Regions from separate parts of the Homo sapiens genome. Here region 1 is linked to region 2. Evidence: fine-mapped expression QTL. A gene starts in region 2. The other region holds a variant in brackets. All regions are shown on one strand. Distances are between the middles of the regions.

Evidence for each region. PIP is the estimated chance that this variant, and not a neighbour inherited with it, causes the effect.
Region 1: its variant is fine-mapped to the expression of COLGALT2 in cerebellum (GTEx, PIP above 0.99). The same link has a PIP of 0.9 or more in adrenal gland, esophagus muscle, fibroblasts, hypothalamus, lung and putamen.

Annotation. Positions count from the first base shown.
Region 1 is chr1:183,957,691-183,972,950 of GRCh38, reverse strand. It overlaps COLGALT2 (collagen beta(1-O)galactosyltransferase 2), which reads left to right. Exons shown (of 12, transcript NM_015101.4): 5 at 3,478-3,682; 6 at 8,931-9,050. Among named protein-coding and RNA genes, the nearest start is that of COLGALT2, 72 kb to the left of the region's middle. The variant T/C (reference allele first, on the strand shown) is at 6,254.
Region 2 is chr1:184,029,866-184,045,125 of GRCh38, reverse strand. It overlaps COLGALT2 (collagen beta(1-O)galactosyltransferase 2), which reads left to right and starts at 7,398. Exons shown (of 12, transcript NM_015101.4): 1 at 7,398-8,031. The coding sequence starts at 7,769. RefSeq lists silencers at 7,586-7,675, 13,417-13,711.

The sequences.
Region 1 (15,260 bases), 72 kb after region 2:
AAGGCGGGCGGATTACAAGGTCAGGAGATTGAGACCATCCTGGCTAACATGGTGAAACCTCATCTCTACTAAAAATATAAAAAATTAGCCAGGCGTGGTGTTGGGCGCCTATAGTCCCAGCTACTCGGAAGGCTGAGGCAGGAGAATGGCGTGAACTTGGGAGGCGGAGCTTGCAGTGAGCCGAGGTCGCGCCACTGCGCTCCAGCCTGGGTGACAGAGCGAGACTCCCTCTCAAAAAAGAAAAAAAAAAAAAAAGTACAAATATTTCAATGACCTTCGATGTATGTTGCCAAATTTATTTCCAAAGAGTTCTAATAATGAAAACTACCATGGTAGGTTATTTTTATAAAATTCAAGTTAAAAAAGGTTTGATTTTTTATTATTTCTTTTTTTCATAGTAAAATCTTCAAAATAGTGGTCTGTTTTAGTGAATGCTCATGGCTGGTTATATTTTTTATTCTTTAATTAAAGAATTAGATAAATTCAACTGATTAATGTAATATGTATCAATGTAGGATAAAAATGTGCTAAGCAAAATATGTTGGCCAGGAGCAGTGTCTCATGCCTGTAATTTCAACACTTTGGGAAGCTGAGGTAGGACAATTACTTGAACCCAGGAGTTTGAGACCAACATGAGCAACATGGCGAAACCACATCTCTACAACAAATCAAAAAATTAACCAGTTGTGGTGTCGTGCACACCTATAGTTCCATCTATTCGGGAGGCTGAGCAGGGAGTATTGCTTGAGCCCAAGAAGTTGAGGCTGCAGTGAGCTATGATCACACCACTGCACTGCAGCCTAAGCAACTGAGACCCTGTCTCAAAAAAAGAGGGAGTATGTTCAATGTATTCTCATGGCCAAAGGGCTAAAGTTTGAGTCTCCCCTTTATATTTGGTTTTGTTTTGGATGAGAAATAAGGTCAGTAGTGTGCTGATAAATGTTTAATAACTGGCTCTTTGTGGGAAAAACCCTAGTTGGTAGCATTGCCAATTTTTATGGTTTAAATACTCCCACCATGCAAACAGCTTAAATGTTGTTAAGCTAAGGGAAAGGTTAAGTAAACTGCAGTATAGCCACTTGATGATACAGCTATTAAAAACATGTAAAACTGCCACATGAGGTGTCATTAGAGTGGTGGGGATTAACGTGATTTTTGTTTTTATGGATTCCAAGCTATCAACATGTCAACTGGTTTGCAAACTTTCTGAAAATTTAACAATGTGTGGTCCAGTACACCACTGGATGAAGCATTCCTCTTTTGTTGTAATTATTTCTTCTAGCTGTAAGAGATTTTGAATGCGTGCTATTTTCTGTGTCTCTTTTGGGAAGGTAATATGTTCATATTTCTAACAGCCATTCACTTCCTTGGGAGAAAACATTATATTGGTTTAAATTCATACATTTTCAGTGTTTCACATGGCAGAATCACTTGAGGGTTGTTTTTAATGAGTTGTGCTTTGACATCAGCAACAAGGGTGGGTTATCCTAGTGGCCGCAGCCTACAAATTTGTATTATCTCCTTATTTACTTTCAGGCTTAAAAGCAAATAGGAGAAATGTGCTCACTTGTTTTGTACAGTAAAACTAAATTCTGAGCAACTTAGGGACAAGTATTATTTTCCTCCATTTATTTTTGGCTTTCTACCATCCCAGTTAGTCTCTACTAGAGCAGGAATAGAAAGGGCCAGTGACTTCATAAATTCAAAGCAGGACCTGGTTCCCAGAGCCTTTAAACTCATTCAAAACAAAATGTCCTTGATGTTGTCTGGCCAATGAACAGGAATTATTACCAACAAGATTCAATTTATGTGGAAAAAGGAACACATTCATCATCTCTGCCTCTTTGCAGGAGGCACATTTATTCTCCCTCACTCTCCCTGCTTCCTTCCTTCTCACCCCCACCCCAAGGATATTCAGTGATTCATCATCATCATGGATTTTCCAAGCTAATCATTCTGGGAATATTGTTCCTAAGTAATCTAGAACTTTATATTAGACGCAAGTACTTAGGCAGCCCTTTAAAAAACCCGAGTCCCCTTTATCTCTTGGAAGACTGCTCATAAGCTGAAGTATTAGGAAAACCATAGAGGATGTTAAATGATCCTTAAGTTAAAGGCTAATAAAAACATTATAGTAATGATAATACTTCATATAATGAATTGCAGTTCCCAAAATAGGTTCATAGACCTTATCACATGTGATTCATTCTGCAGCTCTATGAGATTGACAGAGCAGCTGTTATCCCATTTTTCAGGAGAAAAAACTCAGGCTCAAAGAGGGTAGGCATGGACTAAGATCAAACGGCTAGAAGGTGATTAAGATGACTCTGAGACCCACATCTTCTGAGTCCTCATTTTTGATCCTCCTCCCTTATCATGGGGTCGGCATTAGGGTTAGCTCAGCTAGGACACTCTTCTAGAACCTGAAGGGAATGTCAGAGAAGTAGGTGAGGCTGTAGCACCTTATGTGTGGATGCTGAATTACAACAGGAAATGTAACCATGAAGTGATGCAACTGATTAATGAACACATAAGAACTTCCAGAGTATGGTGCCCTTCGGAGTGCTGGCTTTGCAAAACTTAACACTCATTCCAGTGAGCCTGCCATCACCTAGAACATTTTCCAAAATGCCTGGCAAAGCTTCCACAAGTATGTTTTGTAAGCATGTTTTGTTGAGATATATCTTCATCTTTTCTGGAAATGATTCAAGCTTTGGAATAAGGAAATTGGTTGTCCTGTGTGCTTGTGCAGAAGGACGTTTCAGAAGCTGAATCCCCAAAAACTATGGAGCAGCTGCAGCTTCACCAGAATATTGACTAAGTAACTGCATTGAAAGAAGACCCTCATTTGTATATCTAAGTAATGCATGTTTAATTACAAATATTAGCCACAGTGTAATGTCATTTTAATAGGAGCCGGTATTTGCTGATACATTCTTGGTGCTGGGCAGTAGTCTCAACACTATTCAGGTTCTACCTTACTTAAATTTTACAGCTAACCCCATGGAGTAGATAGTGCCGTCATCCCTGTTTTAGAGATGAGGAAATAAGCGCAGCAAGGTTGAGTCACTTGACCCATACCTACAGACAATAAGTAGCTGAGGTAGGATTTGAACTCAGGGAGTCTGACACTGGAACCTGTGCCCTTAACTGCTCTGCCACTTCTTAATACTCATGCTTCATATTTAATCATAAGTCAACATAAAATACACTTTTATGAAATTATTAAATCTAGAGATATGCTGAAATAAAAGTTACTTCTTATATCAAGACCCTTTTAGTATTATTTTATATGTAGACAGCATTTCTTGTGCTCACTTGGAAATTCATAGGCCATGATAAGAGGAGTGAAGGTGGCTTTGTTTGGGAGCTTGTATATAGCTGGTAATGACTTGAAAGGAATCAGTCTAGCAAATGACTGAGAAGGATGAAGACTTCAAATCAGAAAACACAACCCACCTATTTGCTCTTTTACAGGGCTTCTATAAGAGGACCCCAGACTACGTTCAGATTCGAGAATGGAAGAGGACAGGCTGCTTCCCCGTCCCCATGGTCCACTCCACCTTCCTAATTGACCTCAGGAAGGAGGCCTCGGACAAGCTGACTTTCTACCCCCCACACCAGGACTACACCTGGACCTTTGATGACATCATTGTCTTTGCCTTCTCCAGCAGGCAAGCAGGTACTGTTTGTCTTTGGTTGTAGTGCCACAATGGAGACACAGCAAAATGACCAGCTCCTTTGTTTTGTGCATTTTATTAAAAAAAAAAACCCTCATATGTCTGGTAGTGAGAGGCAGTAAATTGTCTGCAATAACCATACCAGCACCCTCTATGTTGCTGTCCCTGGGAGCACCAATGACCAAGAGCCAGGGCTGGCCTCTACCCAGGAACCCACTCTATTTTGAGTTGGAGGGACTGGTGGTGATATTGGGAATTATGGGAAGGTGATTGCTTCTCTGTGGTGCTACTGCATTGCAATTGTTTATTATAGAAGTTCATTTATTAATTAGGAAACTGTCACAGAGGCCTAAAACAACACTGGCAAAGACCCCAGACTTTAAAAATGGAAGTTTATTTCTTCTTGAAAAAGTCTGAGCTGCTGTAGTGGCTTTGTTCCACAAAGTGTTCAGAGTCCCAGGCTTCTTGTGTATTGCTTCTCACACTCCACGAGGTACTGCCCTTAATTGTGGAGTCCCAGGTGTCTCACCACCATGGATGCGTTTCAGCCAGCAAGGCAGAAACAACAGGGAGAACTCTCCCTGTCCCTTGAAGTGTGCAATCCAGAAGTTGAATGCAGTACTTCCATGCAAATCCTGTTAGCTAGAGCTTAGTCACAGGACAATACCTCACTGTAAGGGAGGCTCAGAATGTCGTCTTTATTCTCTGCATGCATGCACTGCAATTTTCACACTCTAGAAGAAGGAAAGAACAGATAAAGAGGCACCGAACAGTCTCAGCCTCAGTCCCTGTGGAAGGAGAGGCAAAGCGAGACTGAGGTCTTTTATGAACCACTGGGAAAGCATTTCTAGTGGGGCCTGGAGATTTTTGAGAAAGACAAGTCAACAGGAAGGAAAGTTATTTCTCTCATTTCACCCTACACTTGCTTCAGGAGGACAAAATTCACAAGAGCAGTTCAACAGCAAGACACATGGCATCTAACAGAGCAAAGCTTTGTTAGGATAATTCAGACTTTCCTGACAGAAGTTGGGTCCCATTATTAATGTGCCAGAAATGTGTCACTTAACCACTAGCAAAAATACGTTCATAAACCAAGAAGATGGTGAATAAACTCACTGTGGCCATATAACTGAGGGTGGAAAAGATGGTGCAAAGATCCTCCGGCAGCTGAGGAAGTGGCTGGCAGATGAGAATGTTAATACAAATTCAAGCTACAATTCACACATCAGACTCTCCTTAAAGCCATAGATGTCCCACTCATCAGTTGTAGATTTGCTGAGAATAAGAATATTTGGTAGAAATGGGTCAGGCTGATTTCCCCCTTGGCTGCTGGAGCAATTTAGACCCTTTGGCCAGGTGTAGGCATTTTGTAGCCCTTATGTCTAGGCAAAAGCAATCCTCATATGATTGGAAGATTTTTGTAAAGATTCCTATGTCAGTGTTAATGGAAACTCCTTCTTTCAGTTGGTCTGTGATTTGCTCTGACTTCCCCAGGATGGGAAGCAAAGTCAGGGCTTTTTGAGTCCTTTGAGTGCCAATCCCTTTCCTTCAGAGGTTGAAGTTAGGATGTTCCAAGAAAGTGAGATATTAACAATTACACGAATGACACTGCCTAACAGAGTCCTCCTTTATAGTCACTGCACAAAGCATTATTATGATGCAATGAACTAAATTATTATGATACATTGTATGAAACCAATACCTGGATATTGGTATGGGAAAAATGATTCAGGTTAAGCAGGAATTTTTCAGCTCTGCCCTGTGCTTGGCCTGTTCACCAGGATTTTGTGTGTTATTGGTCAGACTTTGAAAAGGCTTTTTTAGAACATTGAAAGCAGGTAGACACCCAAAGTTGTTTGGTGACTCATTTGGGAAGAGGAGATAGAAAAGGAAAGAGAGAGGATGAACTCCCAAGTGTTTCCTTCTGTTCCTGGCACGGTGTTAGTTGGGAGTTAAGATTTTTACATGTGAAAACACAACTAATAGTCATGAAGCAGTGAAAGCTAAGGGCCAGACTGGCGGTGCAGACCATGAACAGGGCAGGAGTCAAGGCAGGAAAGATTCACTGTCATTTTGGGGAAATGAAAGGTCTTTCTTGACAACTGTGGATTTTAAGGTAATATTGTACTTATCTCTAAGTATTTTCAAGAGAAACATGAATGAGCCTGGGAGTCATGTGCAGCCCAGGGCATGTCTCCAGGCTCTTCCTTCCTTAGTTTCAAAGCAAAGCACTTTCCTCTTTCTTCATGAAATATGATTGGTATTCTTTTGTTCTCACTCTTCTGAAGCTCCCTAGCTGTGTATCATCTATGTCCCAGGCAGGACCATCCAACCACAAACCTTGGTCCTAAATCTTTCACCCCAGACTCTAGCCATTGCCCCATGTGGGTGATGAGTGAGGAGCAATCCAAGTGTGCTGGTGAGCAGGGCTTGGCCACCCTTCTAGCCCAAGAAGAGAGCACATATGGTCATAGGCGCGTCTCTGTTCCTGTAATGAGTCCAGGGTCAAGAGTTCACCTCCCATTGTGGCCAGTGATCTGGGTTCTGTATCATGGCCACAGGAATCATCCCAG[T/C]GCCAGCCAGTCGTCTTCCAAATGTCTGATGTGAGTCAAAAGAGGTGAGTGATATGGGCAATGGGCAGACAGATCCTGAACACCACTGGTAGTGATCAAATTTGTCCCCTTGTGGAGGGATGGCAATCCCCTAGTGACTAATGGTCTTGGAACTGAGCTTCCAATTACTGACTGGGTAGAAAGCACTTGGCATTGGCTCTTTAGGGACAAAGATTTGGCACTAATGACTTACTATGTGACCTTGGACAAGTGACAGCCTGAATCTGATTTTTCATCACCAAAGATAGGGATAATTACATCAATCTGCAATGTTAAGGTACTATATGAGTACAAGAAAATGTTTAATATGTTTAAAAGAAAAACAGTCCTTCAAAATGTAGCGTAATTCACTTCTCTTTTTCAAAAGAAAAATTGTCTTCCCCAGAAGCAGCATTCACTGGGAGTGCAGACTCTTTCATAGACTTTATCTAATTATTAATACATTTTCTTTTAAATTTTCTGTTATCAAACTGCCCATGCACATGGTTGAAAGTATTCATATAGTTCCCCATGGTTTATTAAGAAATGAACAGTCCCCTGCACATCACCCTGCATCACTTCTGTCCTCCAGAAGGCAACCACTTTTATCTCTAATATTTACTTCCATGTTAAATAATATGCATGCATTGCTACTTCTTGATTTTCTGGCTTCACCGTGGGCATTATTTGTTGACTCTCCACTATAGACTGTGAGGAGTTAGCTCTTTTTCTTCCTTTTTGCCCTCTGCATGCAAACACATTCTTCTCATCACCCTGTTCTCCCATTGTAATTTCAAACAGATTGATGGTCAGTGTTCTTGTTGTAATCATGCAAGCCTAACTCCAAGCTTGGTCATTCATAGGCTATGATTAGTTTTCCTTTGCCATTCTTTGGAGGCAATTCCTTTAATAATTGCCTTTTTTGCTTAGTTTTATTATTACTAGTATGATCCAAAACTAATCACTAATTACCTCAAACTCCTCTCAGAATGTCCAGATTTGTCAGATGTCCTTTTTTGCATATTTGCGAAGACGTCTGTTCTGGAGCTTTCTAATATATTCTAATCCAAGTGGTGCTGAAGCTATCAACCTAAGACTTATTTCTCTTCTCTTATACACTGACTCTCCTGTTCATGTTGTTTATAATCTTTCTTGTTGGTTATAATCGTCCTCCTCTTCTTCCTCCTCCTCCTCTTCCTTCCTTTCCTCCTCGTCCTTCTCTCACATCATCCAGCAGCTTTCTGAGAAAGTATGATGGCAAGTAAATATATTATGGTCTTGCATGTCTAAAAATGCCTTCCTTGTACCCTCACACTTGATGGATAATTTGGATAGGTATCATATCATTTTTTTATGGAAGCCTCAGAAAGTTAAATGGTAAAATGGTTTGCCTAATTAGGGTAGAGATGCAACTTTAATATATTTTTCCTTCCACTTCCTGAATTCATCATGACTTTACAAGAAGGTGCACTTTGAAGCTCCCCAGAAGCATTCATATGGGCAAACAGCAGAGCTAATGAGTTTGCTCGGTGAAGGCAAGAGAAGGGACAGTGCTTGGTAGACCAGCCTTGATTCAAGCCAGATTCAGTAAAAGCAGGGAATAAAGGTTATTTTCTTTTCTCCTTCCTCTCTGTTAATGCCATGAGACAGCTTCACCTGATTTGACAGATGATGTAGCTGACTGGAGGAAATTTCATCTGCACAAAATAGAGGAGTCCCTATGCAGATAATTATCTCTCTGGAAAACACTGACAATTATCGCAATTAACAAATCACAGGCTTGGATACATGGACCAGAGGCTTGGATACATGGCGGACTCATCCTTTTCACTAAGCAGTCTTATCATTGATCAGGAGTGTCAATTGCTGACCAATGATGTGTATGAGACCATCCTGATTCCTATATTTCTAGCTGTCTGGTTAAACACAGATGCCTTATAACTCTGCAAGTTATCAGGTGGGGCTATGAAGAACAATTTGAATATGAGAAGGGTATTGCATACTTCTGGTATTGTCACACTACAGGTTCTTAACAGGACATTCTGAAATGCAGACTCTTTTGTCTCTATATGAACTGATTTTGGAAGTTTCATGTCTGTTGGTTGGCTCCAAATCCATGCCTGCTAAGGGAAGCAATAAAACCAGGGAGAATCTTGGAGAATTTTAAATTTCCTTCGTTTTTTCGTTTTTTTGTTCTATGTATGCCTAGATTTAGCTTTAATAATCTGTCAGCGTTACAGAATTTTCCTGTTTGCTTTCATATCAAATGTGGATTTCATTCCTCATTTTCTTGTTATTTCCTGTAGGTGGATTACAGTGTTCCATTCTGCTCTCCAGAATGGGAATTCCTTGCCTCCCTTTTGATCCTTTCATGCCTTTTTTGTTCATTCCAGGCCATGAGTTTGCTTTTTCTTCAGAGGGAAAAAATCAATTTCCTCTGGGCTGAAGAATAGCCGAGTGTTTTTATTAGTCCCCAATGCTGTGTTTTACTTTTTTAATAAAGGAGCATTTTTTAGGTCTATAGACATACCTGAAACAACCACTTATTTAATTGCAGTGTCAAACTCAGCATCAGACACAGTTCAGGTTCCTTCTCCTCGCTTGTCACTCAGCAGTATGTTTTCTGATTGTTGGCTTTGTCCCTCTCTTGGATCCTCAGGCATCCAGATGTACCTCTGCAACAGAGAGCACTATGGCTACCTGCCCATCCCCCTGAAGCCCCATCAGACACTGCAGGAAGACATCGAGAACCTCATCCATGTGCAGATTGAAGCAATGAGTGAGTGACCCAGGAGCAGAGGGGATGGCTCTCGTTCCATTGCCACAGTGACCATACCAGCCACTTCCCTCCTCTTCCAGGATTGGAATCTCACAGCCATCAGTCTCCCCTGGCTGAATACATAGCTATTTATTTGTTCATTCTTTCCTAAATTTTTCCTATGGGAAATATGAATATGACAAGGTCTTTGCCATGTGGGAGCTTCCCATCCTGGAAGAGCGCTGGGTACACAAGTAAATACTTTCCAAAAGATCTGATAAGTGCTATAATAGTGTTTTGTGGTGTGGACTTAAACCCTAACTTGGCTGCTTTCTAATTATATGACTTTGAGCAAGTAATATCCTTAGTTGTAAAATGGAAATAATGAAAACTTCCAGGGTTTTTGGGCAGATTCATTATGGTATATGTAAAAAGGCTAATACAGCCACAGTAGTTATGACTTTAACTTAATAATAGCTCATGATGTAACAGATATCACTGTTACATCATAAAATGCTAAGCACTTTTTGTACATTAAAGTGTACAAAACTGTTTCATTGTTGTTTCATTAATCCTTGCAACAATTCAATGAAGGGTTTTTATTATGCCCATATTAAAGATGAAAAACAATGAGATGTTACCTTAAGTAACTTGCCCTAGATCATTCTGCTAAACAAATGACAGATTGGGATTTGAACCCATCTTGCTATCTCCAAAGTTCATGTCCTTAAACACTATTGTTATTGCCTCTGGGTCTGGCATGATGCATGAATTGCTGTGCTCAGTCATCAGTAGCTATGCTTTTTATTATGTGTGATGTACAATGGTGGCTAAAAGAGAAAGTAACCAATCCACCTAACCTAGGGGAAGATGTTGAAATGGCTTCCCAAAGCAGGGACTATTTTCTGTTATTCATCAGTAGAGCACGGGGGTGTGAACGTGGGCAGTGGAGGTGGTTAGGGAGGAACAGCAGAAACTGAGGCTAGAAAGTGGGCAGGAGCCCCGCCAAGAGGCTCTGATGTATAAGAAGGCATTTGGGCTTCAGCTGAAAGGACAGGCACGCTCAAAAAGATTTTAGCACAGAAATGTCAGGTTGAATTTGGATTTAGAAAGGTCACTCTACAGGTAAGAAAAGTGTAGGTGGAGCATGCATGGGATGCATGGGCAGTGGCTGCTGGTCTCAGGCCAGGGGTGAAGAGACCACTTTGGACATTTCACGGCTACTGGGCAAAAGGTGGTGAGGACCTGAGCTAGAGCAGTAACAGTGGGAATGGAGAGGAAGGAACAGAAGCTTAGGACATAGGCTTGAAAGGACATAGCCAAGAGTTGATTGTAGGTAGATGAGCAAAAGGGAGGCATAGAGAAAACTCCCAAGTTCTGTCTTGAGTGTCTGGGGGTGATTTTAGGAACTTTAAATGGAATAGGGCATGTAGCATAAAGGAGAGGTTTGAAAAGAGAGACCATGGCTGGCATGGTGGCTCATGGCTGTAATCCCAGCACTTTAGGAGGCTGAGGCAGGTGGATCACCTGAGGTCAGGAGTTCAAGATCAGCCTGGCCAACATGGTGAAACCTGTCTCTACTAAAAATACAAAAATAAGCTGGGCATGGTAGTGCACATCTGTAGTCCCAGTTACTCGGAAGGCTGAGGCAGGAGAATTGCTTGAACCCAGGAGGCAGAGGTTGCAGTGAGCCAAGATCGCGCCATTGCACTCCAGCCTGAGTGACAGAGTGAGACTCCATCTCAAAAAAAAAAAAAAAAAAAAAAAGAAAGAGAAAAAGAAAAGAAAAGAAAACAGAGACCATGAGTTTATTTTTAGATCCATTGAGTTGTCTATGAGTATCTGCTTCCCACTCCCTTGCTCCTACACTATAAATTCCTTTTTCATCATATTAGTCTCAGGACCTAGCACATTGTCTGTCACGTGGTAGATGCCCAGCAAATATTTGTTAAATGACTGAATGAATGATGATGAAATGATGAAATAAGGAGCTGGTTCACTGTGACAGTATTTCTTGAACCAGCCCTCAGGAATCTCCTTTGCGAATTTCTTTAATACATACTTTTTCTGCCACTTTCCCTATGTTCTAGGCCCTAAAGGATATGGGTGGCATCTTATTGCTTTGTATTCCAAGCACCTAGCACAGTGCGTGGCATGTAGTTGTTACCAAAAAAAATCTGCTGAATGCATGAACAAATGAGCAAATGAATGAATGAAAACTGTATTGACAAGGGCACTGAACCCAAAGCGAGAATAATGGGCTTGAACTTAGACACTGTCGCTTTTGAAGGGAGAATCAGATTTCAGGACTTCAGTTTCTTCATCTATAGAGTGATTTTGCAATGTTGAGAAGAGCAAATAAAAGACTATATCAACTCCATAAAATAATGAGGTGTTGCTATTATTATGACTCCATTTACCTCTCGATAAAGTGCTGTCCCTTATTATCCCTGTTTCATGGCTCTCGGTCTCGACTCCCAAGTAGGGAGAGTCTCTCTGGCCTCAGAGAGAGGCCAGCCAGACCTTATGTTCTCTTGTTTTCTCCCACAGGGCTGAGAGTATAAGCTCTCAGTACACAGAAATGCACGTGTCATCAATAAAGATTTTAATGATTGTAAATTACAAATATGCACACTACCATGCTAGCCAGGTAGAGTTCATTTGAGAAGAACCTGTAAATTATAGCTTTCATCATTGATCTCCCAACACATGCCACCTCTAGTGCTAAGCACTTTACATATCGCATTTTATTTCATTCTTATACTTACCTTCTGTCCTGAATTCTAAAAATATAGAACACAATAGGAGTAAGAAAATGTTGGAAAAATAAAATTTTGAGGTGTATAATGAAGAAATATGGCCTAGAAGTCCGTGTAAGATTGATAAAAAGTTGGTAATGACAAAATCCTATCAGTCAAGTATCCTTCTCTAATAAAAGATTAACTAGGTGTTAAAAACACTTTGCATAGTGCCTAGAACCCAATAAGCAGTAAATAAATGGCTGCTAATAGTGTTGTTAGACTATACTGATTGAAGAATAGGAACGGGGTGTCCAATATTTTGACTTCCCTGGGCCACACTGGAAGAAGAAAGATTGTCTTGGGCCACACATAAAATATACTAACACAACAATAGCTGATGAGCTAAAAAAAAAATCACAAAAAGAATCACATAGCGTTTTAAGAAAGTTTACAAATTTGTATTGGGTCACATTCAGAGCAATCCTGGGCCACATGTGGCCTGCGGGCCATGGTTGAACAAGCTTGCATTAGTATATGCATTTTGTTCATGAGCAAACATAGAATGCCTGTAATGTATGCGTCTTCTCTGAAGGTACTAGGGATTCAAAACATTTTATGATCAATTCTCTGTTTTCAGGTATGTATGATTTAATAGGAGAAACAGACAGATGTTAAAAAAACACTAACAACACAGTATAGCATTTTGAGAAAGGAGAAAATATCAAAGAAATAGGAATTTGGGATAGAGAGAGATTGCTATGGCCTGTGTGATCCAGGAGAGCCTCAAGTCCTAATCGTTCTTAGGCTAAGCTTGGGTACAAGTGTAAAATTTAAACAAGAAGAGTGGTATGGTGAGGACACTACAGGCAGAGGAAACAGACCAAGAAAAGACGAAGTATTCTCATGCTGAAGGAGAGCTGACTTAAAACAGTAGGCAGAAATAAAGTTCGAGAGGGTGGAGTGGCTTCATTGTTGTAGTCCTTGAATTCTTCTTCAGCTAAAGAAGAATTCCTATCTTAAGGAGCCAATGAAGGTGTTAGAAGAGATAATCAGGCTGTAAGGATTTATTCAACACATACTGTACCCCGCAGATTGTTCAAGATGCTGGGCATAAAGCAGTGAACAAAACAGGCAGAAGCCCTGCCATCAGGGAACTTATATTCTAACACAGAGAGTTAGACAATAGACAATATATCTGGGAAGCAGCCATATGAATATTTGGGTGAAGAATGTCTCAAGTGGAAAGAACAGCACATGTAAAGACTGTTAGACAGGAAAAGCTTGGGGGTGTTCCAGGGACAAAAGGCCAGCATGATTGGGGCATAAAGAATGAGTTGGGTCAAGGGAGATGAAGTAATGGAAGAAGAAATGTCCAGATCACACCGAACATTCTGGCCATGGTAAGGAATTTAGATTTTACTCCAAGAGTAATGGGAATCCGTGGAAGATGGGGTGGGGCAGAGGGGGCATGGCCTGAAGTGACTTGTGCATTTAGAAGGATCATTTGGGCTGTGGTGAGGATACTAGATTGTAGGGGACCAGTACCTCTCTCCTGGTGGGACATGATGGTGATTGGGATGTGAGCTCTAGCAAGGAGTTGATGAGAAACAGACAGGTTGAGGATATATTTTGGTGGTGGAGCAACAGGACTTACAGAGACCTGAATGCAGTCCATGAAGGAAAGAAAGGAATCAAGATGAGTCCAAGATTTTAGCCTGATATGCCATTTACTGAGATGGGAAAGACTTTATAGAAAAAGACTGGGGGTTGGGGAGCTAGTTTTGGTCACGTAAGTTTAAGATATTTAATAGGCATCTAAATAGAAAGGCAGAAGATAGTTGGATATATAAGTCTGGAGTTCAGGGAAGAAACTCCAGCTAGAGACAGATATTTGAGAATCATCAGCATCAGAAGGATATTTGAAGCTGTGGAACAGTCTGAACTCATGTAGTAAAAGAACACAGGATGAGAAGAGGACAGATCCCTGGGGAAGACAAAACAGCCAGAGAGCTAGGAGGAAAAATTGAGAAGTGTTTCAAGACGGAGCCAAGATGCTGCTGAGAAGCCAAGGAAAATAAGGATAAAGAATTGGTCATTGGTTCTGTCAAGAGAGAGGTCTGTGATGACCTTGACATGGGCCACTTCAGTGCAATGATGAGAACACAAATCCATTCAAGTGGACTGAAGAGAAGCCAATGGGGAGATGAGAAAGCTGAATCTTGATGGGATGGGGAAATGGAGAAATCCGATGGAGGCTGTTGGGGGTAAGAGGTCAAGGGAAAGGTTTTTCTGGTTAGGTTGTTTGTACTGTTTTTTTAAAAAAATAGAAATATAACAGTATGTTTTATGCCAGTCACAAGGATCCAGTATATAAGGAGATCTTGATGATGTAAAAGAGAAGGTAATTATAAGGTGAAAACAAGAGGGTTTTTGTCCTGGGTTGCAGCCCAGAACAATATTGCAGAGGCTATACTAGATAGAAACTTCATCTACTGTGGCAGATGGGATGGCAGAATGTATTGATACACATGCAGTTTGGTTTGTGGACTTGAGGTGGATTGAAAAGGTAGATCTAATTTGATTTTGAATATTTTCTTTCTGAAGTATATAGGCCAGTCAGTCATGAGCTAGACAGAGATTTTGGAGATTTTAGGAGAGAGAAGACAAAAGATACAATCTCTCAAAGAGTGGGAAAATAAATTTACTATGAAAGGACACTTACATCATTTGGTGGTGTCAAGTGCCAATTTGACATCTGTGATTGTAGCTTTGAAGTGACTCAGTCAACACAATTGTGTATGTTTCTCCCAGTAGTCCTCTTGGTGCTGAGTAAGTGGGCAATGGGTTTAACCAGGATTAGGGTTTTATCAGGCATCAGTGGACGAGAATTGAAAATCTTGTGAAGGGGATGGTCAGGGAATTTCTGAATTGTAGACTGGAGTTTTAGAAATCAGAGTTGAAGAATTTGAGTGAGGTGGGAGAAGGGTTATGACGACAATGACTAACACTTATTAAAAGCACTGTGCCCATCTCTTTTCATGTGATAACTCATTTAGTACATTAGAAGCTGCACAGAGAATTTGGGGATGTGCTGCCTTCGGGAGATGAATGACAGGAGGCCAGATCTTATAAAGATGTTAGATTTAAATGGTCTATAAAGCATGAGGAGATTACTCTTGCAAATTACAGCATAAGGTGATAGGAAGTCTCAGGTACCTGCTCTCAGTATTGACATTTTGAGACAACAGTACATCATGTAAAAATTATTAAGATAATTGGACTTGAAGTTATGTCTAAAACTGAGTTCCAGCTCTGCCAATCACTCAGTATTTGACCTTGGACAAGTCTACATCTGGCTTGGTCTCAGTTTCTTTATTTGTAAAAAAAAAAAAAAAAAAAAAACCACCACAAAAAAGTGAAGATAAAATTACATGGTGACTATGAAAACACCTAGCAACCTGTTAAGCCCTTAAATATAGTGTTGAGTGTG
Region 2 (15,260 bases):
ACTCAGTCTTTCACCATTAAGGATGATGTTAGCTGGGGGCTTTTTGTAGATGCTGTTTATTACGTTGAGGAAGTTCCCTTCTATTCCTATATACTGAGAATTTTTATGAGGAATTCATGTTGGATTCATAAATGCTTTCTCTGCATTTCTTGAGATGATCATATGATTTTTCAAGTTTGTTAATAAATCACATGGATTGACTTTTTCTTATTTTCTTATTGTGGTAAAATACATATAACAAAAAATTTACTATTTTAAGTGGTATTAAATACATTCATAATGTTGTGCAACTATTACTCATATCCATCTCCATGACTCTTTTATCTTTAAAACTGAAACATATACCCATTAAACAATAACTCCCCATTTCCCCTACCCCCATCCCCTTGGCAACCACCATTCTATTTTGTCTCTGTAATTTTGACTAACTACCTTATATAAGTTGAATCATACAATATTTGCCTTTAAAAATTGGCTTATTTCACTTAGCATAATGCCCTCAAAGTTAACATGTTGTAGCATATGTCAGAATTTCCTCCCTTCTTGAGACTGAATACTATTCCACTGTATGTATATACCACATTTTGCTTTTCCATTCACTAATCAATAGGCACCTGGTTTGCTTCCATATTTTAGCTATTGTGAATAATGCCACTGTGAACATGGGTGCACAAATATCTCTTTGAGACTTTGCTTTCAATTTGTTTGGGTATATAGCTAGAAGTAGAAGTGTTAGATTATATGGTAATTATATTTTTAATTTCTTGAACTGTCATACTGTTTTCCACAGCAGCTGTACCATTTTACATTCCCACCAACAGTGCACAATGTTCCAATTTTTCTACACCCTTGCCAACATTTGTTATTTTCTGTGTTTTTCTAGTAGCCATCCTAATGAGTGTGAAGTGATAAATCTTATAGTTTTGAATTGCATTTCCTAAGGATTAGTGATGTTGAGAAACTTTTCATGTGCTTATGGCCATTTGTATATCTTCTTTGGAGAAATGTTTATTCAAAGTCCTTTGCCCATTTTAAAGAAATGATTATATATAAAATTGTATAAAACCGTATAATTTTCTAGCTTTCTCTGTTACTACTTCCCATCCTATCTCCCAGCCATGCCCTGTTCATTGTATCTCTCAAGTGTGTCATACTGTTTCATTCCTTGCTCCTGCAGTTCCATCTACCTGGAATTCCCATCTCTTTCCCCTTCTGTCTTCCTTTTCTTAGTCCATGCTACTCATTTTTCTTTTCTTATATTTCGAATCAAATTATATTTTTTTCAGCTTTTAAGTTCAGCAGTACATGTGCAGATTTGTTACATAGGTAAACTTGTTTCATGGGGGTTTTTGATACAGAGTATTTCATTACCCAGGTATTTAACCTAGTACCCATTACTTATTTTTCCTGATCCTCTCTCTCCTCCCACCTTCCATGCTCCAATACGCCCCAGTTTGTGTTGTTCCCCTCTATGTGTCCATGTGTTCTCATCATTTAGTTCCCACTTATAAGTGAGAACATGTGGTATTTGGTTTTCTGTTCCTGCATTGGTTTGCTTAAGGATAATGGCATCCAGCTCCATCCATGTCCCTGTAAAAGACATTATCTCATTCTTTTTTATGGCTGCATAGTATTCTATGATGTGTATGCACCACATTTTGTTTACCCAGTCTATCATTGATGGGCATTTAGGTTGATTCCATGTCTTCATTATTGTGAGTAGTGCTGCAATGAACATACACGTGCATGTGTCTTTATGATAGAATGATTTATATTCCTTTGGGTATATAACCAGTAATGGGATTACCTGATCGATGGTCTTTAGGACTTTGAGGAATTGCCACACTGTCTTCTACAATGGTTCAACTAATTTACACTCCCACCAACAGTGTATAAGCGTTTTTTTTTTCTCCACAACCTTGCCAGCATGTTATTTCTTGACTTTTTAGTAGCCATTCCGATGGTGTGAGATGGTATCTCATTGTGGTTATCCTATAATTCTCAGCCTATCACAGCTGCCCCAGAGGCATTTATTTCCTCCTCTTCTTCGCTGTGGTTTTTACTTGAACTTCTCCAATAATCAATGATGTTGAGCTTTCCTTCATATGATTGTTGTCCACATCTATACCTTCTTTTGAAAAGTATCTGTTCGTGTCCTTTGCCCACTTTTTAATGGAGTTGTTTGGTTTTTCCCTCTTGTAAATTTGCTTAAGTTCCTTTTAGATACTGGATATTAGACCCTTGTCAGATGCATAGTTTGCAAAATTTTTCTCCCATTCTGTAAGTTGTCTGATTACTCTATTGATAGTTTCTTTTGCTATGCAGGAGCTCAGTTAATTAGATCCCATTTGTCAATTTTTGTTTTTGTTGCAATTGTTTTTCACATCTTCTTCATGAAATCGTTGCCAGTGCTCATGTCCTGAATGATATTGCCAAGGTTGTATTCTAGGGTTTTTAGAGTTTTGGGTTTTACATTTACATTTATAAGCCATCTTGAGTCAATTTTTGTATCTGGTGTAAGGAAAGGGTCCAGTTTCAAGCTTCTGTGTATGGCTAGCCGATTATACCAGCACCATTTATTGAATAGAGAATCCTTTCCCCATTGCTTGTTATTGTCAGGTTTGTCAAAGATCAGGTAGCTGTAGGTGTGCAGTCTTATTTCTGGGTTCTCTGTTCTGTTCCATTGGTCTATGTGTCTGTTTTTGTACTAGGATCATGCTGTTTTGGTTACTCTAGCCCTGTAGTATAGTTTGAAGTTGGGTAGCGTGATGCCTTCAGCTTTTTTCTTTTTGCTTAGGATTGCCTTGACTATTTAGCCTCTTTTTTGTTCCATATGAATTTTAAAATAGTTTTTTTCTAGTTCTGTGAAAAATCTCAATGGTAGTTTAGGAATAGCATTGAATCTGTAAATTGCTTTGGGTAGTATGGCCATTTTAAAAATATTAATTCTTCCTGTCCATGCATGCTACTTATTTTTCAATGCTCAATTCAAAGACATCTCTTTAATTAAACATTTCCTAGCTATCTCCACTTCCCCACTTCCTTACTTATGCTCCTTTTTCCATCATAAGACATAAAATGACTTATAGCATTTGTGCATTTATATGACACATCTTATTTATTCATGCATTTCCAGCAACTATATCTTGGCACAGAGTAGGCATTGAGCAAGTGTTTGAAGGAATGAGTTAATATAATTTAAGGGATGCATCTATTCTTAAATGAGACGTAGAAGTGTAGTTTACATTTGTATAAACTTGTTTTGAATTGGAAAACATTCCTCCGTAGTGACTATTCTATAGCTCTTGGATGCAGCCAGAGCATAGACAAAACTTTGACACTGACGTAGTTTAATTTTAGCCTTTCCCACCTCAGTCACTGCTCTTTTTCTCCCTTAATATTAATTCCCTTCCTAGGACCCAGAGTCCTCGGGCCTACGTATCAGAAATCCATAAAACTTGCTTTGTCACCAAAGAGACCCATGCTTCAAATTAGGATCCCATTCAGTTCCCTTTATCAAAACTTCTTATAGGCCATTTCAGTTTAGGTGATAAGATTTAAAAATCTGATTGAATTAAAAAGATATCATCTAATGCTCCTCTCTCAAGGATTTTCATGTTGAAATTGGCAGAATTGTCAATTCAAGTACATTTTACATTGTAGGATTTTAGGATGGATCAGAAAAGCGAGTAAAACAAACCAGGTAGTGAAAGAAAGATATTTCAGTACAGAAGAAAGAAGCCTGGATAATTCAGCCAAGAGACTCTTTCTGCCAACTATGGCCCAGCAGGACTTACGAGGGGCTGGCCACTTTCTCCCTGTTTTTCCAAGGGAGAAGCATTCAAATATTCAACACTCAAATGATTGGCATTTAGCAATTTCATAAATGTTTGTTGAATGAAAAAATGAGGCAAGCATTTAAAACTTTTTTACCTAGGAAGGAATTGATGTTCAAAGAGGTCAAGTTTCCAAGGTCACAAAGAGAATAAGTGACACCAGTGAAATGAAAATTCAGCTCCAAGTGTCAGTTGCTCTTTCAAGCCTATCACAGCTGCCCCAGAGGCATTTATTTCCTCCTCTTCTGGGCTGCTGGAGCCACAGACATCTTGAGAAGCTTTCCTGCAAGAAGTCCTCTGGCCACCTCATAGGCCCTGTCCCCACCACATTGCACTAAGGGTGACAGTCCAAGAGGTTTTGTTGTCCCAGATGGAAGTCCCCTGTGCTGGAACAGTATGGGGAGGGGATATGAGAGAAAGTGCTTACTTCTAACTTTATGTAGAATCAATTGGAACAGTCTACTGGCAGTGGAGACAAAGAGATATGTGTGTACAACCCTGACTTTCCATTCAGCCGATTTTCCATGGAAAGAGCATTATAAGCAATGAATATTTTAAAATATAATTGGCTTTTATTTTTAAATTAGTTTTTTTTTTCAAATTAACTGTCTTATAACATCAATCCTATGCGGGGGGGAAACATCCAAATTCACATTACTGATTTCTGAAGAACTTATGAAACAAATCTGTTAGTAAGATGGGGACTTAATTTTTCCCAGGCTTCCCCTCCACTGCCTCCCAACCATATTTACAATGATCTTCTACTGTTGCATACCCTGTTATTACCTTAATATTCTCAGTCACTAAATGAGCACTCAATTAAAAGTTTTAAATAGGTGTTTTGTAGGTTATGTGGCTGGGAAACCCTTGATTTCATCTACAGAGCAGAGCAGGTTGTAGTTATTTTAAGAGAACTCCATGGAGCCGATTTCATTATAATGTCATTAGAGACCATACAGGTTTAGATGCTTCACCTTTCTTTGAAAAAATAGACTCAGATAAGCTGTTGACTTTAGGTAACTGTATTAGTCTGTCCTCACGCTGTGAATAAAGACATAGCTGAGATTGGGTAATTTATAAAGAAAAAGAAGTTTAGTGGACTCACAGTTCCACATAGCTGGGGAGGCCTCACAATCATGGCAGAAGGCAAAGGAGGAGCAAAGACACACCTTACATGGCGGCAGGCAAGGGAGCATGTGCAGGGGAACTGCCCTTTATAAAACCATCAGATCTTGTGAGGCTTATTCACTATCACGAGACTAGCATGGGAAAAACCTGCCCCCATGATTCAATTACGTCCCACGACACGTGGGGATTATGGGAGCTATAATTCGATGTGAGATTTGGGTGAGGACATAGGCAGACCATATCAGTAACAGAAGGAAAATAAGACAGAAATGTGGTTGCCTAGCTTTAAACTCCCTCTGTTTGCAGTAAAGTGAACAAATGATAACTATCAAACCAAGTTTGGCTAAGGAGTGCGGATTTTAGTATTGAAAGATGAGTGGGACATAGTTCAAGAAAGGGAAACAAGAAAGACAGAACAACATGGAGATTGTCTGGACCTTTCTAACAGTCCCATCACTACCTCCCTTGTGGAAATGACCACATCTTCCTCTATCCCTTCACTGTAGCTGGTACATCTGTTACAGTACTTCTAACAGATGTTTAACTCTCAGTCTTCCCTACAAGACTGTGAGCCCCTTGAAAGTGGGAACAATTCCTGAAAATGGATGGAGGGGAAGGAAATGTCTGTAGGCCATTCGATAAAAAAATATGAAGATTAGAGAAGAGATTAGAGCAGAAGACATAGATTTTGAGGATATAACCACAGGAGACCATATGGAGTGGGAAGACTAGCACACTATAGGGAGGCACACAGTGAAGGGGCTTGGCTCAGAGACAAGTAGTATCAGAGGAGATCTAGGATGGGAGATTATGTAATCGAAGTCCAGGAAGGTGAGAACGGAAGAGTTTACTGAATCTGCCAATGCTGAGGCCATCTGTTGGTTTTGCAGAACAGTGGGGAGGGCTGACGCCTTACTGCACTGTGGTGGGAAAGATGGGAGATGAAGAAGTGGAGAATACAAGTATAGATCTCTCTTCCAAGGAGCTTGGTCAAGCAAAGGGATGACTAGAAGAAGACACAGGACTTTTTTTTAAAGCTTTTCTTTCTTTTTTTTTTAACGGATAAGAGAAGACTGACCAAGTATTTAGCTTGAGAGAAAGGAGTTGATAGAGATCAGTTGAAGATTCAGTAGAGAGTGGAATGATAGAGAAAAATCATGGGCTAGAAAGGGAGACCTCTCCCTTTCTAGTCTGTGATCAAAGACCCTGTCGTGAGGAGGCACCTGCAAGTAAGAAAGGTCTTGGTAGGGATGCTAGTTGGAGACAGTGGTGTTGGGGGAGCTGGATGAAGGAGGTGATATACTTCAAAAGACAGTAGGGAAGACTTCTAATAGTTGCTGAGAAGGATTGATAACAACTAATAAAAAGACTATGGGACAGACCTGAGGGTGAGTTGGGATTGGAGATCATGAATGTGCACTGGCACCAAAACACCCTCCATACTTATCTATCAAAGGCTACACAATATATCTTCAAAACTAAATATCCAGCCGAGCATGGTGGCTGATGCCTGTAATCGTAACACTTTGGGAGGCCGAGTTGGGCAGATCACTTGAGCCCAGGAGTTCCAGACCAGCCTGGGCAAAATGGTGAAAACCCGTCTCTACAAAAAAAAAAAAAAAAAAAAAAATTAGCTAGGCGTGGTGATGGACACCTGTGGTCCCAGCTACTCGGGAGGCTGAGGTGGGAGGATTGCTTGAGCCCAGGAGGTCGAGGCTGCAGTGAATTGTGATCGTGCCTCTGCACTCCAGCCCCGGCAACAGAGTGAGGCCCTGTCTCAAAAAAAAAAAAAAAAAAAAAGTAAATCTCCTTTAGCAGTGTATGCCAGCAGTTTCATTTTATGTGCTAATTGTGTTCTTCCTTCACCCCTTCTTTTCTTCCTTATCTCTTCTCTGCTCTCCAACATGCGCGAATTTTCCCTCTTTGTTACTCTATCATATTGGCTTATTACGGAAAAAGAAAACCAGCTAAGTGAATTTATTCTTTCACAGCCCTCCTGTGAGGAGGCTTACTGGGTTCACAGTAGAGTGAGGCTTCAGGACAGTGTCTCCCAAGGGCTTTCTTTTATTTTGCGGGGTCTGATCTGGCTCCAAAATTCTCCAAGTCTTCAAACTTTGTGTTATTAGGTGTCTACTCAGTCAAGAATGAATTTCAGAAGTTGAGTATATAAGAAAATGCGACATGCTGCCTTTGCGGTGGTTAAACAAGTGTTTGTCATAATCGTGAATAGTTGGGGAGACTTTTCATTTTAGAACTCTACTCAGTCAATAGGTGCATTATGAAAACTGGATACATTGCATCACTGTGAAGGGCTTCAGTCTGCGGTTTGCAAAAGCAGAATAAATTTTCTTGGGGTTGTACCGTTATGTACACACACACACACACACACACACACACACACACACACTCACAGGCTCATTGGCAGACAGGGCCACAACTCGCGGCTCTAGGGAAGGCCACAGACCTCAGCTGTACGAGCGGAACCTGGACTAGAGGAACTTTCCTCAGGACTCAGGGCACACAGCCCCTCGGCCACTACTGTCTGCGAGCCCGAGGCGCAGGGGAGCGCCAGCGGCTGCAGGTACGCTGCGCACCCGCACTGGGGCCTGGGCGGTGCAGCGGCGGCGGGAGGGTCCTGGGAACCGCAGCCGCCGAGGCCAGTGTGTGAGCCGGCCGGCCGCGGCAAGCCGCATCCCCCGGCCGCCCCTCGCAGCCCCTTGCTCCCCGGCAGCCGCCGCCGCCCTCAGGCAGCCCAGCCGGGCGCTCGCGCCAGGACTTCCCCGCCGCCCGCCTCGGCCCGGAACATGGCTGCGCGCCCTGCTGCCACCCTCGCCTGGTCGCTACTGCTCCTCTCCTCAGCCCTGCTCCGCGAAGGCTGCCGAGCGCGCTTCGTCGCCGAGCGGGACTCGGAGGACGACGGAGAGGAGCCGGTGGTTTTCCCGGAGTCGCCCCTGCAGAGCCCCACGGTGCTCGTGGCGGTCCTCGCCCGCAACGCGGCGCACACGCTGCCGCACTTCCTCGGCTGCCTGGAGCGGCTGGACTACCCCAAGAGCAGGATGGCCATCTGGTGAGCGCGCACGGGCCCCGGGCCGCCGCGGCGGGACGCGGGGGCGGCCTGCCCAGCGCGGACAGCGCCCGGAGCAGCAGCTGCAGGGCGAGGGAGCCGCTGGAGGGGCGGGGGGGCACGCGGAAAATCTGGCGCACACACCCCCTCGCTGCCCGCGCCGGTGGCTGGCGGATCGGGCGGTCAGGCTGCGGAGGGACGCGCGGGTCAGTGTGCGCAGAGGGTGCTGATGGGGAGAACCGGACCGCTGGAGCTCTGGAGGGTAGCCTGCGAATTGGGGCTTTGTCCCACAAGGGGCATGGGGGACACCCCTCAAGGGGACTTTCAGTTCCCTCGCTTTTAACTCTCGAGGTTTCCTCTTTCCCCACCTCATACTGCTAGCCCTGACGTGAGGGGATAGGGTGCCTGTCGCCGTATTCCCATGTAGATACGACAGATGGAACGTAACTGCGGTTGGCCAGGGGCTCCGCAGTGGCTGGGGCGCCGCAGTGCGCTGCTCTGACTTTCCGGTGCCGGGCTCCTGCTCCAGGCTGGAAATGTGCTCCTAGCTCTCCTAGGGGGACCTGGACCTAGGGGTGGAGATTGGGCGGAGCCCGCGGAGTGTGCCCAACCATGGCACCACCGTGGGCCTGGTCTCCTGCGAGCGCTCCGGGCTGTCCCTGCCGGTGCATCGGGGTTCCACGTCCCGGGGAGAGACGAAGATGCCCTGGGAAAGATAAACAGCCAAGTTTTGTCCCCGGAGGAAAGAAGCTTGGACCTGGTCCCTGTGTCTGCTGCGGGGAGGGCCAGGGGATAAGTGCGGGTGCCTGCCCGCCCCACCTTGTAGAACTTGGTCGTCTCGCACCTTTTATAAACGCGAGGATCCGAGGGCGAGAAGTTAGTTGGTGGCCAGGTTAGCCGCTGAGTGGGTTGTGGAGGACAAGGAGGTGGATGCTGGCCAGGGGAGATGTGCTGTCAGGTAGGTACTCGGACAAGAAGACTCTGGCCCCCTGAGGAAGACAGAGCCCAGGTCACTCTGGAGCAATTTCTGTCTTGTGTTGATAAAGGGAGCTGTTCTCAGGCGAGACACATCCTTAAAGCAGCGGTTGGGCAAAGAGAGGAAGAGGAGTAAAAGCAGCAGCTAGAATTGGCAGCCTCAGAGTACCTGGTGGGAGAGGTGCAAAGGTGCGAAAGCAAACATGTGATATAGTACAGCTCTGTGCTGTACACTGCTTTACTATATACCCTGCCATACGTGACCGCCTGGCGGAGAAGGGCATATTATGTGGAAAGAGAGCACTGGGACAGCCAGGCTTTAAACCAGAAGGAAGGATTTTTTTTTAACCACTTCGGTACCAAAAGAAATTCACACATATCAGTTACCTTAGTTGTTGTGTTTTTTTTAAGAGATATTTTAAAATATGGTTTTGATCTTTATGCATGATTTAGTTTTTTAAAACGTTACAGTATTTACCATAAGAAGTTGGTGAGTGGTGAAGCAGGTGTCAGGCACATGCTTTGCTACCTGATTTAGAGACATTACCTCTTTTTATCATACAGTAAACTTTTAAGAGGATGCTATGATGTTTATTTTGCAAAGAAAGAGACAGACTTGCATCAGTTCAGTAAGTCACTTAAAGTGACAGAATTAATAAATGGTGAAACTGGAATTTGAACCCAAGGCCACCCTAAAAAGGCAGGAAACATGATATAAACAAAATTTACATAAGCCTATAATCTACAAATTAGGAGACTTGAGTTGTTTATTACTAGTTTGATATGTGATTTGGGGCTGGTTGCTTGGGATCCATAGGCATCAGTTGCCTCATCAATAAAACGAGGGAGTTGGAATAAATGATTTCAAAAATTCTTTATGGCTCTTGAATTCCATAGATTTTGCAATATAATTAGGATCAACCAGCATCAATGTACATCCTAAGTTCCCTGTAAGTTCCAGATGGTATGGACACTGGTGTCTTACTTAGATGAGAGAATTCCAGTTCTGCATAGACCTTTGAAATCTGTTGTCTTTTATGTCCAGCATTGGCAGGTTAAGCAAGAAGTGCAAGGCCATGCTTGCGTCAGTCATTGAAGACTCTTCTTTGAAAAATTTTGGTTCTGTCTTTAAAACATTGTGTAATTCTTTAGGTAACAATAATACAAATCCCAGTTTCTAAATAGTTCTTTTCAGCTCACAAAGGAGCTGTAAAGAACCTTTGGAAATAACTTCCATGCACTGTTAACTCATTTGATTCTTACTGCCATTCTGTGAAGAAATAAAATTATCTCTATTTCCCAGAAGAAGAAATGTGTTTAAAGTGATTGACTTACTCAAAATTACATTTATTTATAAATTCCACACATAATAATAAGAGCTCGTGGTTCTTCTAAGAACTTCACATTCATTTTCTGGTTTAAGCTTCAAAATGACCCTATCAGATATGCACTGTTATTATACCACTTTACAGGTGAGAGAACTGAGGTACAGAGAGGCTGTACAAGCATATTCTTCTAATGCATTTTTTAAAATAAGAACCAGCCAGATCAGGGCTGAAAAAAAGTGTATTTAGATATGTGTGTTTTTTTACAGATAAATATGATTCATTTTACTGGGCAGTGTAAGGTGATCTGAATGGCTTTTAAAGGGTTTGGGGAAGAACCAAATGATTTATAAATCAGATTGGGGCAGTTGTATGGATATGGATGTCTTCTTGATGAGTGGACACTTAGTTTGAACTCAGTTTTGAAGGAAGAGTAAAAATCAACTAAAACCTGGGAAAGAAGGATGGCTCTAGAAAAAGGGATCAGCAAGGCAAAAAACAAGCAAAAAAAAAAAAAAAGATAATAGGGCATCAACCAGAGTTTTCTCTCAGGGAGTTCAAGTGGGTGGCAGGTCTAATGACTGCAAGTCTCCAAACAGATTGTATTGTACCATAGAATCTCTTTGGAAGTGCTGACTTCTGGTCTGGCCCTAGGGGAATATTTGGCTGGGAAGCTTATGAGATATAACACTCTGATGGGAGGTGGTACCTCAGTTTAGGATGTTACAGATTTGAGGTGCTTCTACCGATTGCTTGCCTCTAGTTTCTCATTCCCAAGCTCTATGCAACATTCCAAGATGCCAAACTGATTAGTATCCATTCTGCAAAGCCAGCACATGCTGATGTCAAAAATGGCTGTGAGCTACCCAGAACTTTGTAAAATAGAACCGCAGTGAATACAGAGCCACACAGAATTCAGCTTCCTCTGAATCTGACCACAATAACTCACTCTGTGCAGACTCACTCTTCTCATTCATCCACTCACAGGCTAGAGGAGCATCTGATTTCTGTCCCAGATGGGTCAGTGAGAGACCTGGCTTATTGATCACATTCAGACTCCCCTGTTATGTGATAATTTTTCTCACTTTAAGTTCTGGACCAGATCTGCACTGCACATACAGATGAAATGAGTATCATCAAATTGACCTGGAAGATACTGTTGTTGAAGAATGTCTGCAGTTATCTCAGTCAGCATCAAGTTTATTCAGATTAGTCTGAACAAAGGAAAATTTATATTTTAGAGATACTTTGTATAAGCAAAAAGGAAAGCTTTTTACATTTACCTGTCTGATCTCAAAATCCACCAAGCTAATTGTTTTCCTTCAAATATCACAATCCTGTGATAAGGACCTAAGGAAGATATCTATTTCATGTGTCCTAAAACCTGCACTAAGTTTTAGGGAATTGGGAATATGCTGAGATGAAGGGAACTGTGAGGCATTGTGACAAGTGGTAGTGTACTTCAGTGGGTTCTCCTTAATTCAGTGGAACCATGAGCAAGTAGCCTTAGCAACAGAGGGAAGGCTGACCTCATCCTCCTTAAACCTATGATTAGGGAGAGTGGGGCCAAGTACCATGACAGTGAAAACCGAAGCATGGCGCAGGGAAAAACATTTGCCCCAAATGAAACATTAAGTTTTTCTTTTGGAGAGCCTGCTGTTGCTTGTGGGAAGACAGTTGGGATTCACAGAGTCTGTGCAGGCACAAGGCAGTAACTGCTATGTAATTACAGAAAGATTTGGGCATTTTGTTTGGCAGAGTTTTGAAAAGTAACATACTAAATTGGGAACCGCTTTATGGATTTTTAAATAAAGAGAGGAGCTTCTGTTGACATAAACATAAACAGTGATGAGCTGGGGGATGGTCCTAACATTTTGCATACTACTTTATTTCTGCATTGTTTGGGGATTATCTTGAATTTATCTCCACATTTTAATGTCCAATCAGTAGCATTTTCATAATTGTTTAACTAGAAATACTAATATACTTTGTGTTTATAAACTGTTCCAAACTAGTATCAGTGACATTTTTCAGCACCAGTGGTAAGAATGATGTCATATTTTATCATTACACTCTTGATATTAAATGTTGTATGTTATCCCTACAGATAGAAGTTTCGGTTTATGGCTGAAAAAGCAGATGATGCCTTAGGCCCCTTCTGTCTGTTAGTCTGTTTTCCTCACCTTTTTCCTCCTTTCCTCATTTTCCCAATCTGGTAGTTTAGCGTGGAGGGCATCAACCAGAGTTGGAGGAAGAAATATACAAGCTTAGGGTCAGATAGACTAGAGCATAAATCTTCTGTGTGATTGTGGGCACATCAGTAAACCTCTAAGACATAGCTGCCTTATCTTCAAATAACTAATAGTAACACCTGTCTCAAAGAGTTATTGTTACAAGTAAATGATATAAGGTATGCACAGTGTCTTTTACATAAATGCTACTAACAATGATAGTTGCTATTTCTTTTGAATCTTTTCCTTTTTCTCCTATCTCCTTTACCTTTACCTTTCAAAATCAAGATTTTAAAAAATCTTCAAATGGAAATTTGTTTAGTTTCTTCTTTCCAACAACAACAAAAAATATTAGTATAGGAAACTAACATTTATCTGGATGCAGTGGCTCATGCCTGTAATCCTAGCACTTTGGGGGGCCGAGGTGGGCAGATTTCTTAAGCCAAGGAGTTCAAGACCAGCCTGGGCAACATGGTGAAACTCCATCTCTACAAGAAATGTAAAAATCATCCAGGCACGATGGCATGCACCTATAGTCCCAGCTACTTGGGAGACTGTGGGTGGATTGCTTGAACCTAGGAGGTGGAGGTTGCAGCAAGCCGAGATTGAGCCACTGTGCTTCTTCCTGGGCAACACAGCGAGACCCTGTCTCAAAAGAAAAGAAAAAGGAAAAGGTAAGGGAAGGGAAAAATAAAGAACTAAGGAAGGAAGGAAGGAAGGAAGGAAGGAAGGAAGGAAGGAAGGAAGGATACATTCATGGAGGCACTGTTCTAGACACTTTGGTATCAAAACTGATTTACTCCAGACAACAACCCTAGGTGGGAGATGCCATTACATTCTACTCTATCACTTTACACAGAAGGAAACCGAGGCACAGAGAATATAAATAACTTGCCTGAGGTCACTAGGCTAATGCATGGTGGAGCCAGGATGTGACCCAGGCAGCTAATGTTGCAGACCGAGTACAGATGGTCTGCTTAAGATTGTGAAAAGACCAATTAGTTCTAGTTTTTGCTTCTGTCGGTTGACCCAACTTGGGAAGATAAGAACGCTAGTGTTTCTTTCAAATAAGAATTGTCATTTCCACTTGAATGATGCAAGGGTCTTAGTGGTTCTCTTCCGCTGTCTTGATAATTTCATCACTTAGTTCAGGCACTTTTTAGTGAACTCTAATCTGTTTTGGTATATTTCATAGGGACAGATTATGACTAAAATGTGGGTTGTACATAAATATGCAGGTCACTTGCTGTGATCATAGCTACATAACAGTAGAAAGAAATTTCTCAAGTATTATTAGTGGCAAATGATTAAGGTGGCACTAATCATACACGTATTGGCTACATTTTCAGTTCATATTGGTAAAATAGAGATTCCATTTTTCAGGCTTTTTAATCAGTAGTCTTAGATTTGGTTGTCCCCTAAATTCAGCTTCATTCCAAATGATTGAAGAAATTATCAATCCTCCCTGCAACCTCCAATTTCAAAATATGATTGGAGCTCAGAATATTTCCTCTGGGTAAAAACTGAAGTGACTAATAAATGACACCAATCCTGTTGTTCCAGTTATGACAGCTTAACTACAGAATTAGTAAGAATGCCTAAGTTGCCCTGGTTTTATTATATTGAGTTCCATGATGAGGCATCTAAAGCACAGGGCAGTTAAGAGATTCCCATGGTGATTATGGAATGAGATAACTGATTTCTAGATTTTTAATCCTGTGTAGCTGTTTTAATGCTGATTATTTTATAATGAATATCCTTCTTGGTTTAAAGGAGCATGGGGAGTATTTTAAGCAGAGTTTGGTTTTCTCAGATCTGTTTTTAGCTCCTTTATCCAAGTGATTAGGCCAGGGAGTTTCTTTGTGACTCCAAATACATAAGCATGTGCTTCTTAGGTTCCTTTTGCTTGTCTGTTTCTGGTGGTCATAGGAATGAACAATGAATGCCTTGTAACTGAGAAGGCTGCTGGTTGTCTCTTGGTTCTTTTTCCAACACTTAAACGTGCACTTGGGTCATATTGCTGTGTGGCACCGTCTCCAAGTCTATGGCACAGTATAGTAGGACCATTATAAGGCTTATATAGGACTATAGTAGGACAATAATAAGGCTTGTTTCTGCATATTTCTTGACATAGCATAACAACATACAGTAAAGTCTGAAAGAAAATCATTAGCCTATGGTATGGCCACTACACCTATTCCCCAGTTACCATATCATGAAGAACTTTTACCATATGTGTTTAAATTATAGCTATTATTCATCAGGAATTACAAAACGTATGTATTCTATGTTTTGACATTTTTATTTCAAAAGAGTGACTTGTTCATTTAATTGCATTTAATTGATATGTTGTTAGCATATCAAAAATTGTTAGTTTTTAAAAATTTGAATCCCTTAGGGTCTTTATGGATTTTTAATAGTACTTCAGTTATTTTAAGAATTTGCTCTTCTGACTTTTTTAAATGGGAAAGTAATAAAAAAAGTATGATTGGGAATATCACAAAAAGTAAATCTCCCATCTACTCTATACCACCTGCCAGTGACCAATATTAACACTTTCTTTCATATTTTTCTAGAAACTTTCTATACATATACATATATCCTTTTCATTTTAACCCAAATATGAGTGTTTTACATATCCAGTTCTGGATAAGTGTGATATTTTAAAATCCATCTCTCTATCCCATGTTCTTTAAACACT